Linked DNA regions of Homo sapiens: region 2 is linked to region 1. Evidence: fine-mapped expression QTL. A gene starts in region 1. The other region holds a variant in brackets. All regions are shown on one strand. Distances are from middle to middle.

Region 1 (5,372 bases):
TTTTTAAGTTACGGGATGTAATAGCTACTTGGAAATCATTTGCTCCTGTTAGTTCTTGCTTTTAAGTTTTGTTAGGCAGCACCAGAATAGCCTTTGTAATTTTTACTGACTACAGAGAGGGACTTGCCCTTCTAATTATGCTCTGATGTTCTGTGTATTTCAAGATTTTTCCACTATGGTTGGTGGGAACTGGAACTATTCCCAGCTGGGTGTGGGCTCTTAGGCTCTTTTCCCTTGGGTAGTGTCCTTAGATGTGTGGGCTGAGACTCAAGTGGGACCCTCTGTGATCTCGCAAGCGCATTCTTTGCGCAGCTCTTTCCTCTCTGGTACTATGCCCTGCCAGCGTTAACTGCCTGGCTTCCCCAGACTCTCTTTGGGTTTCCTTTCTCCATCTGTGGTCTGCAAACTCCAGGCAGTGAGCAGTTGTAGCACTCACCTTATTTGTTTCCCTGCTCTCAGGGGTCCCTGCACTTCTTGTGGTCCACTGTGACAACTGTTGTTTCATACATTTTGTCCAGTTTTTTAGTTTAAGATGGGAAGGTGAGTCCAGTCCCTGTAACTTCATCTCGGCTGGAAGCAGGAATCTTATGTTAATAGTGAATTTTTAGCAGTGTTGACCAGGCTTTGATTGTATCTTTAGCCCTACTGTGTATGCAGTAAAGCACTTGGCCATTTTCTAATCTCTTCTATTGTTTAACCTAATGCCCCTCTAGATTGAGGTACCCTGGGAGAGGAATGATTTTCCATGCTACCTATGACCAATTAGAAATACAGATACATCAGACTACAACTTTTGAAGACGGGAAGCCCATAGTAGTTGCTAAGGAATGTCTTACTTAGACCCAAGGTACAGACAGGAAAATCATTAGGAGAGAACATGCCTCTAGGTGTGTGCCTTACTTCAGCATTCTCCAGAGAACTGTGAATTTCTAAAGCATGTGAACTTGAGAAATAGGCTTTGTCTTCTTAGGAAAATGTATCCTTTAGGGGGTGTTGAGAAAACAGCAGTGACAGGGGCCTCTGGCCTTGCCTCCTTGCAGTCAAGCTTCAAAGAGAAAACGTTGGGAAGAAAGACTCCTGCTGAGCCTGATGAAAGAGGAGTCCCAGTTGCCAACCAAAAACATGCAGCCAAAGTCCACAAGCTACAAGTAGAAAGGGTGGCTCAAGCCAGAGTCCCTGGATATGGAGGGCGAGTGATGGCTGCAGAAAGATGCAGGTTCTTCTCCCCCACTATGACTGGCCATCGCCTAGTGCAGGATGTACGGTGGCCCTGTCCCAGGGCTGTGCTGGCAGCCACCCTTCCCCACTAGCTGTGCTGCTCTCACATGGCACGGCCTCTGGCTGCCAGGCCTGTGCTCGGGCCTGCATTTCCCTTGTGCCCTTCTCTCCACCCAGCCCTCAGGACTGCCTGGGCTGCATTTTGTCCAGAATCCTTTGTCTCCTTACTTGCACTGCAGCTGAGGCGAGTGTCCCTTGTTCCGGGTGGCTCCTGTATTGTGGCGCTCATGTTATTGAGAGTCTTAGAGGTCACCCCCTAGATTCACCAATTGAAGGGCAGGGCTTGTCGATCTAACAGTGTCTTGCACATAGGGACACAAATGTCTGTTAAATGAAGAAAGTAGGGATGCCAGGCCACCCAATGGGGTGTATCTCCTAGGGTTCAAGAACAAGGGCTAATCAAGTCAAGAGAATGTGTGCCCTCCCCCACCATCTCACCCCTCACTCTCAGAACACTTGGGGCCCCTGCACAGGTGGTAGGCATGCTGGCCCTGAGTGCCCTCCCAGCCTGTGTTAGAAGAACCAGTGGATGACCTCGCTGTCAGCTGTCTCCCCTTCTCTGAGCTTACTGCAGGTGGCAGCAGCCTCTCAGCCACAGACTGTTCCCTTTCCTAGGAGAAAACGATGGTCACTCAGCAATGCTGTGCGCTTGCAGCTTCCACCACAAAAGAGACAGCTGTGGCCGCAGCACCAGGGTGGTGATTCTTCCCCCTCCAAGGGCAGTGGTGCATTCCTTAGCACAAGTATAAATTTACTGTTGCTAAGAGTTCTCGGAACAGGATAATACAAGAAGGAACCACTGCAAGTGAAATCCAGCCACCAGTAATGCCGAGAGGCCAGGCCTGTGCCTCCCAAAACCTGCTCCTCCGCAGGCTTCCCCGGCCCATCTCCAGAGCGCCCTCCTCTCACCACTTTACATAAACGAATGTACCCAAGATCCCCCATCAGTTTTCCATGCAGCTGCCAGAGTGCCACCAAAGCAAACCTCATCTCAAGACTCTGTGGCCAGGCCCTCACAACCTCCTGCCAGGCTCTCGCTACCTACCCATCAACAGCAAGACTCCCAGGCCATCTCAATCCCCCCAAAGAGCCCTGTTCCTCCAGCCCCACGGCTTCTGTTCACCTGCCGTGCTGTCCCCGCCTCTGCCCACCCACTCATCCTGCAGATCTGGAGCAGCATTCCAGGGCCTGGTAAGTGTGCGCCATTTTGGGTTACTACGGGTCTCGCCAGGCGCGGTGGCGAGTTTTGCCCCCCACGCTCCCCAGCGCCTGCACCTGGGCGGAGAGGTAGATAAGGCTGGGAGATCTTAGCCTTTTGCAAGGCAAACACCAGGCAGGAACGCCCAGAACCTCGGAGGAGGAGGAGGGGAAGATCCCCAGGTGGAGACCAAGGTGCCCCTCACGCTGAGTCGTCTAGGAGACCCTCCCTAGTTTAAAAAGTGTTTATTTGCTCGGAGAACATTTCAGGAGGCCTTCCTGGGACCCCAAGTGTGCCGCCCCCCGGGAGGGGCCTGGAGACGCCCGCGCGGCCCCCCTGCAAAGTTTTACCGGCCCTGGGCGCCCCCGGCCCTGGCACCCACGCGGGGAGCCGCAGTGGGCCGGGCCGCGCGGCCGCCGCCTCCCACCGCTCCCGCGCCCGCTCCCGCCCCCGGCGCGTCTCCTCCGGGCCCGCGCCGCGGCGGGCTCAGTCCTCAGCGGGGCGCGTGGCGAGCGGACTCGACTCGGCACCGCTGTGCACCATGGCCCGGGCCCTGTGCCGCCTCCCGCGGCGCGGCCTCTGGCTGCTCCTGGGTGAGTAGGTCCAGGGGTCCCGGCCGAGCTCCCTTCCCCTGGCCAGCCGGTGTCCTCTAGGGGAGAGGAGGGGAGCGGGTGGGAGCGGGTGGGAGCGGGTGGGGGCGGGCGCCGCGGGCGCACAGATCCGCTGCCCTTGAACGCGGGCCGCCCCGGTTCCAGGCGGGAGGCCCCAGGGCACAGGGGAGGCGGAGGGCGCGGACCGGTGTTGCGCTTCTCGCCGGGGAAGGGACGGCTTTGGGGACGTCGGAGAGCGGGCATTCTGGAAAGCGTGGGGTGAGTCAGCCCTGCACACTGGAGAACTAGTTTTCAGAAGGAAAAACAGGACGCGGGGTTCCCCAGCCCCGCACCTCGTTTCTCAGGCTGTGCGCCGCGGTGACTGCCAGCGCAGGCTCCCTTCCCTAGGCCGTCCCGCGTTGCAAAACCTGCAGACGGGCACCTTGCAGAAGACGCAGTGTTCGGGAATCAGAACCACAGCCGGTTTGTATGGAAATTAGTCAACACTGACAATCTGTCGCCTGCAGCAGTTGCTTGTTTGCAAATCACGTCTTTTGCAGAAATGAGGCCAGCCCTTTTCGGGACACTTCCATCGCTTTTTTTCTTTTTTCTTTTGGTTTGCTTGTTAACTTGGCACTTTTGGCTAATAGAAATTTAAAGAAGGACGGGTCCCTTGGTGAAGTGGTGGAACACGTTTGGCTTTCCACTTGGAGGGAGAAGTGGAGATTAGCGGCAGCCTCATGGCCACAGGAACTGGCCACACACTCGGCAAGAAACGGTGCTGTTCACTTCCCTTGTCTGTAATGTGTTCCTAAAATGCTAACTCAAGCCCCTTCTAAACCGCTTTGGCTATTGCATTATTCCGTGTATTTAGCTACCTTTTAACGGAAACTGTGAATAGGTTACTGGCGTGGGAGAACCCAGTGTCCCTGGGAAGGCCGGAGCAGTTGTTTCTGGTATGTGTGGCCTTTCCCCGGAAACAGTGATGTTGGTCAGAGGCACCTGCCGCACAAGACCTCTTTGGCGCTGGCACTGGGCAAGCAGGGACCACCGGCGCTGTTGTAGCTGGGGGAGTGGTTCGTGGCCCAGCGAGGAGAGGGGCCAGGGCTTCTTGGGAGCCATGGATTTCTGTTCCCTATTTGTAAACCTCTCCAAGGGGTGGCAGATCTGCATAGAATCCTCAGAGGCCGATATAATATAATCTGAAAGCGGATCTTGCCACTTTAGAGTTTTGGCTGAAGTTACGTGGAAAGCAGAATCTCGCAGTAATTTTATTCTCTCCATTTGGCTTGACATGGCCTTCACTGTTTTCATTTACTAAGAAACAAACATTTCTTTGTTAGCAAGGCAGAGAGCTGGGTTGTGGAATATTTTTTACATAAATAACCAAATAAATAAACGTTCTTTACTAGTGTCCAGAGGCTGAACCCTCTAAAGCTTGTGTAAATAAAACACTATGTCACGATCACATATAAAGACCTTCCTTGTTTACCGAGAAAACTATTCATGTTCTGCCGAAAGTCCAAAGTCCTGTAATTTTAACGTTATTTTGAGTGGCCTGGCTAATGTTATCTCTTGGAAGAACAAACAAAACTTTATGAGGTTATCAGTAAATTAATGTCATTGGAGCCCAGCTGTAATTAGTAGAATTACTGAGCACAGGCTGTTTCCTTCCCAAGCTGTAGCACTAGCCAGGTCTCCTTGGTGATGAAGATTTTGCTACCAAGAATGGCAATGTGGAATTTTTTTAAGTACTCTAGTTTACAGGTTTAAGAACTTATCTGTGACAATTTTACAATCAAGCTATTTGTCTTAGGTAGTTATTAAGAATCTCATAATCCGGCCAGGCATGGTGACTCACGCCTGTAATCCCAGCACTTTGGGAGGCTGAGGTGGGTGAATCGCCTGAGGTGAGGAATTCAAGACCAGCCTGGCCAACATGGTGAAACCCCGTCTCTACTAAAAATACAAAAAAAATTAGGCAGGCATGGTGGCAGGCACCTATAATCCCGGCTACTTGGGAGGCTGAGGCAGGAGAATCGCTTGAACTCAGAAGGCAGAGGTTGCAGTGAGCTGAGATCATGCCACTGCACTCCAGCCTGGGTGATAAGAGTGAAACTCCGTCTCAAAAAAAAAAAAAACTTAGGATCCATATATAGTTCTTTTCCCTCTGAGCATCCTGTGTACTCTTCTGTTTACTGGAGACTCTACATGCATTCTGAAAAGTTTGTGTATAGACACCGAAAAGCTGTTCGTTAACCAGGAAAGAAGGATGCGTTAGAAGCCCCTGGTTTTTCGAGTCCATC
Region 2 (5,372 bases), 42 kb after region 1:
GGGATGGGAGCAGCCACTCACCCGTAGGAGTTCCAGGTGTGCACAGCTGGCTCAGAGCCTGCTGGCCCAGCACACATTTCCCAGGCCAGCACAGTGTGCTGAAGTGCTTTTCATCAAACAGTTAACAAGACTTCCTTATACATTTCCCCAGTGTCAAGAAAAACAAAAGGTGCCCAGTTCTCTGCTGCCTCCAGCAGTGCTGGGCAGAAGTGAGACAGGAAGCCAGGCTCCCGAGCTCACACACGCAGACGTAGGTGGGAAGCTACACTGCGTGGGCTTTCACATCCCCAGGGCCCGGGCTGAGGCCTCTTAAAGACAAGCTGGCCCTGTGCTTGCTCCACACCTGACGCACGCCAGGCCAGGCCACAGCGTGGCTCTCTGTCAACAGAGGAAGTGGCGCAGTAAGTGGCCAGCCCCTCCCTGCTTTGGAAAGGTCCCGCTATTCACAGAATCCTGGGTGTGAGCCCTGACACCAAAGGCAGAAACCACAAGGGAGAAGCCAGCCCTGGCTGCCTAAATGCGAAATAAGCCTGTTGCTGGCTGCCACGAAAATGCCACTGTGTTCCAGTCCTAAATGGGGTGCATGCTATTGGTTTGAGACAGTGATTTTTTTTTTTTCTTTGAGACTGGGTCACACTCTGTCACCCATGCTGGAGTGCAGTGGCATGATCTCCGCTCGCTGCAACCTCCGCCTCCCGGGTTCAAGCAATTCTCCTGCCTCAGCCTCCTGAGTAGCTGGGACTACAGGCACACGCTGCCACACCCAGCTAATTTTTTGTATTTTAGTAGAGATGGGGTTTCACCGTGTTGCCCAGGCTGGTCGCGAACTCCTGACCTCAGGTGACCCGCCCGCCTCGGCCTCCCAAAGTGCTGAGATTACAGGCGTGAGCCACTGCACCTGGCCGAGAGAGAGATTTTTATCACATGAAGAAAATAGCTTCTTTCTGTGTTTTCAAGGTTGTGGCTTTTTTAAAATCAGAAAAGAATATTGAGTTTTCTCAAATGCCTTCTCAATGCGTATTAAAATGACGGTACATTTTTTTCCCATGGTGTATTAAAGTGTGATTTTGTAGTAACAGGTTTAAAGCATTCCTGAAATTAGCCCTCCTTTAAATAAAATATGCTATGTGGCTAGATGAAGTTTGTTAGCATTGGGTAGGGGACTTGAGTGTCTATTTATAGGTGGAAGCGAAGGGCATCTGTTCCGTCCGTGTGCGCATGCGTTGAGACGCATGTCATGCCATCTCAAGAGGCTTGGGATCAGGGTTTGTTAACTTTTTTAAATGAACTGGGAAGCTGCACATCTTTTTCTTTCACTTTAAGAATTTGCAGTGGCTCACGCCTCCCACACCTGTAATCCCAGCACTTTGGAAGGCCGAGGTGGGAGGATCGCTTGAGCCCAGGAGTTTGAGACCAGCCTGAGCAACATAGTGAGAACCTGTCTCAATTAAAAAGAAAAAAAAAGAATTTGAAAGAACTGCCTGGGATCTAGTGCCTTTTGAAACAGCAATTCTTTAATAACATTTGCCATTTTTCTTCTTGGAATTCCTCCTTTTTAAGTCGATATTTGATAGTTTATAATTTAACCAAAAAGTATCCCAATTCACTGAGGATTTTCCAATTTTTAACAAACCTTTTTTACGTATTAATCTCTTATACTTCTTCTTTTTCTTTTCTGTTTTTTGTTTTTTGTTTATTTGTTTGTTTGTTTAGGACAGTGTCTGGCTCTGTCGCCCAGGCTGGAGTGCAGTGGCACGATCTCGACTCACTGCAACCTCTGCCTCCTGGGTTCACGGCATTCTCGTGCCTCAGCCACTCAAGTTAACTGGGACTACAGGTGTGTGCCACCATGCCTGGCTAATTTTGATATTTTCAGCAGAGATGGGGTTTCGCCATGCTGCCCCGGCTGGTCTTGAACTCCTGAGCTCAAGTGATCTGCCCACCTCGGCCTCCCAAAGTGGTGGTATTACAGGCGTGAGCCACCGCACCTGGCCTATATTGCTTCTAATAATTATTGATGGACAAATTATGTGCCATTTGGAGAGATTTATTTTGTTCTTTTTAAAAAATATCTTGCTTTGGATACTTATTTTGTTTATTTTCATTTATTTTTGTTTAATAAAATAATTTATAACTATTAATTTTTCTCAGAATTCACTTTTGCCCCATTCCATTCATTTGTACATATAGTATTGCCGATCTTGTTCTCTTAATATTTTGTAATTGAATTTTTAAATTCTCCTGTGACTTCGAAATTATATAAATGATCTTTCATTTCTAGGAATTCCATTTTTTTAAATTTATCCTTTTTTTAAAACTAATTTTTAGTTTTCAGTATTGTAGCCTGAGAATATTGACTTATGATTTATACTCTGGGGATTTGATGAGTCTCTTTTTGCCGCCTAACACAGACCCAGGGGCCTTTGAAAAGCCGGCTGAGTCTCTGTAGAATAGAACCTTTATCAGACAGTCACTGCATCGGTTTATTAACATTATTTTTCATAATCACTTTATGCTACTGTTTATCTACCTAGCCTTGGGAGGTGTGTTTAAGTCTCCCACGTGTCTTGCGTTCCTGGCAGCTGCGGGCTGTCTGTACGCTGTGGCGCAGTGCCAGCTGTCCTGGGTGGAGCATCCCCATCAGCCCCACTGATGGCCCTTCTCACCGGCCTGGGCCAGGTCTGCTGGGAAGCCCACACCCCTGCTCACCTTCTGTCTGCGTCTCCTGGGTACATCCCTCTCTCGCTGTCTTCCTTCAGGCTTTGTTTCACTTTGCCTTGGAGGTGGCCACTGTGACCAGAGTAAG[G/T]GGGATTTTTGCTCTTACCCTCCCTGCCCCGGTGGTGTCTGCAGTCTGGTTGTTGAGACCAACAGTGGGTGAATAATCACATGAGTTCATGGACAGCCACAAAGTAACACCCATCTATGAAGGAAAACCCCACTTTGCTGGGGAAGCCAAATATGATTGAAGCATCCAGAAAAGGCCTCTTTGAGGACGTGACATTTAAGCGAAGGGCGAGCATAGGGTGGCCTTGTGAAGATGAGGCTAAGAGCTTTCCAGTTAAAAGGAACAGCATGTGCAAAGGTCCTGAGGCAGAACACTGGCCACTGTGGCTAGAATGTGGCCAGCAGGAGGGAGGGGACCCAGTTGAGTGACCCACACAGAAGCTTCTGAATCTGGGACAGGTGTAATGGTGAGCACTGAAGGCGTGAAGCAGGGGTGGGAAGGTGTGGACGGTGGGCTTGGGCAGCGGCCAGGGTGTGGGATGTGGCCTGGAGAGCCCGTGGTAGCTAAGCCCAGCATGCAGAGTGGAGGGCGGTGGAGGGGTTTGATGGCTGCCCCTGACTAAACTGGGGGAGGCAGAAGAAGGGGTAGATAGATGCCAAGCCCCCACATACTCACTACAGAAAAGTGGAAGCTGGTATGTAAGTTGTAATAACCCATCCACCAGGACGAGTCACTTCTGCCCCATCCTGGGCACAGTGATGGGGCCTCAGGAGGGGAGGGCACCCTTGAGGGAAAGGGGAGCCATGATAACTCAGGGGATAGGCATGGCATGGGGGCCCTGAGTCACATGTGTTCACAGCCAGAAGTGAACAGCCCAGGCTTCAGGTGGAGGAGGGAGAATGGGGAACTCTCAGGTGCAGCCCAAGGCCGAGAGAGAAGGAGCACTTCGCGGGGGATGCCTCTCCTCCGGGGGCTGGTAAGGGCCCGGGGTCTTCAGTGAGTGAGGATGCCCCACTGCCACCCGGAGCAAGGCTGGAGTGAGGATGAGGTGGGGGCCTGGAGCAAGGGCGAGGTGGAAGAGGGAGGGGTAAGGAGGGATCGGGAGGAGGAGGAGGGGCTGGGAGGAGGAGGGAGGGATCAGGGGGTGGAGGAGGGGCTGGGAGGAGGAGGGAGAGGCCAGGAGGAGAGAGGGATCAGGAGGAAGAGGAGGGGCCAGAAGGACAGGGAGATGGAGGAGGGAACAGGAGGACCAGGAGGACGCAGAGGTCTCCGCAGAGGGGGTGGGGGGAACACAGCGAGGAGGAAAGTGGGGTCCTGCCCCCAGGGCCCACCCCGCACCCCCACTCACCCTTCCACAGAGCCCCTTCCTGCCTCAGAGTTGGGTCCCGCGGGGCCCCCAGTTCCACGCAGGAGGCCACTGAGACTGGAGAGGCCCAACGCCCCGTCCCCGCTCCCTGTCTGCCCTGCACGCCTCCCCCATGAGCCGCTGTCACCAGAGGGTCCCAGCCCTGCCTGCACATCAGAGCCCTCTGGTGGGAAGACCCAGGCTGCCCCAGACACCAGGCACGGTGGCTGCAGATGCAGTGACGCCAACATCTAGTTTCCTGTGAGCCTTCCTGCTAAAATGAGCTGTTAAATATAATTATAAAAAGTATGTATGCTCAAGGTAGAAAACCCAAAAAAGTTGAGAGAAAAGTCCTTCGTGTTATTACCATTCTGGTGGGGATCACTCCTGTGACATTCTGCTGTGTCCCCCTCCCATGTGGACCATTTTACCCCAATCCAGGCTGTTTATGGCACCTGGTCTAACCTGCTGCTGCTTTTCAAAACTTTATTTATTTATTTAGCAGAGAGACTGGGTCTCACTAGGTTGCCCAGGCTGGTCTTGAACTCCTGGCCTCAAGCGATCCTCCTGCCTCAGCCTCCCAAAGTGCTAGGATCACAGGCATGAGAGCTGTTCTTCTGCCCAGCTTTAGAACATAAATGTTTTTCCACATCTTAAAATTTTCTTCCTAAATATAATTTTAACAGCTACATAATGGAGCCACTCATAAACAATTTCTGTGACCGCTGTCCTGTTGTTTGCTGTTTTTCATAATTATAAATCTGCAGTGGACACCTTCTTACATCACTGTTATCTATATTTCACATTATTAATTTAGGATAATTCCCAGTAATGCAATTACGGGGTCAAGAGGCATCCGTGAGTTTGAGATTATTGATACATATTGCCAAATTGTGTTTCAGAAAAATTGTACCAGTTTATCTTCCCTGAGGATTGCTATGAGTGCCTGCCTCAGTATCCTACACCTTCACTAGCATTCAGCATTATTTTCTTTTTTTTTGAGACAGGGTCTTATTCTGTTGCCCAGGCTGGAGTGCAGTGGCAGGAACATAGCTCACTGCAGCCTCAATCTCCCACCTCCCTGGGCTCATGTGATCCTCTGACCTAAGCCTCCCAACTAGCTGGGACTACAGGTGCATCCCAGCACTGGCAAATGTTTGTTGTTGTTGTTTCTTTAAGACAGAGTCTCGCTCTGTCACCCAGGCTGGAGTGCAGTGGTGCGATCTCCGCTCGCTGCAACCTCCACCTCCCAGGTCCACGCCATTCTCCTGCCTTAGCCTCCCGAGTAGCTGGGACTACAGG

The links. PIP is the estimated chance that this variant, and not a neighbour inherited with it, causes the effect.
Region 2: its variant is the best candidate, but not a certain one, in a credible set for the expression of RAMP1 in whole blood (TOPMed, PIP 0.70).

What each region holds. Positions count from the first base shown.
Region 1 is chr2:237,856,659-237,862,030 of GRCh38, forward strand. RAMP1 (receptor activity modifying protein 1) reads left to right here and starts at 2,965. Exons shown (of 3, transcript NM_005855.4): 1 at 2,965-3,069. The coding sequence starts at 3,018. RefSeq lists enhancers at 777-1,565, 1,566-2,352.
Region 2 is chr2:237,898,467-237,903,838 of GRCh38, forward strand. The region is part of intron 2 of RAMP1 (receptor activity modifying protein 1); the gene reads left to right. Among named protein-coding and RNA genes, the nearest start is that of RAMP1, 42 kb to the left of the region's middle. RefSeq lists enhancers at 1-489, 457-506, 587-696. The variant G/T (reference allele first, on the strand shown) is at 2,807.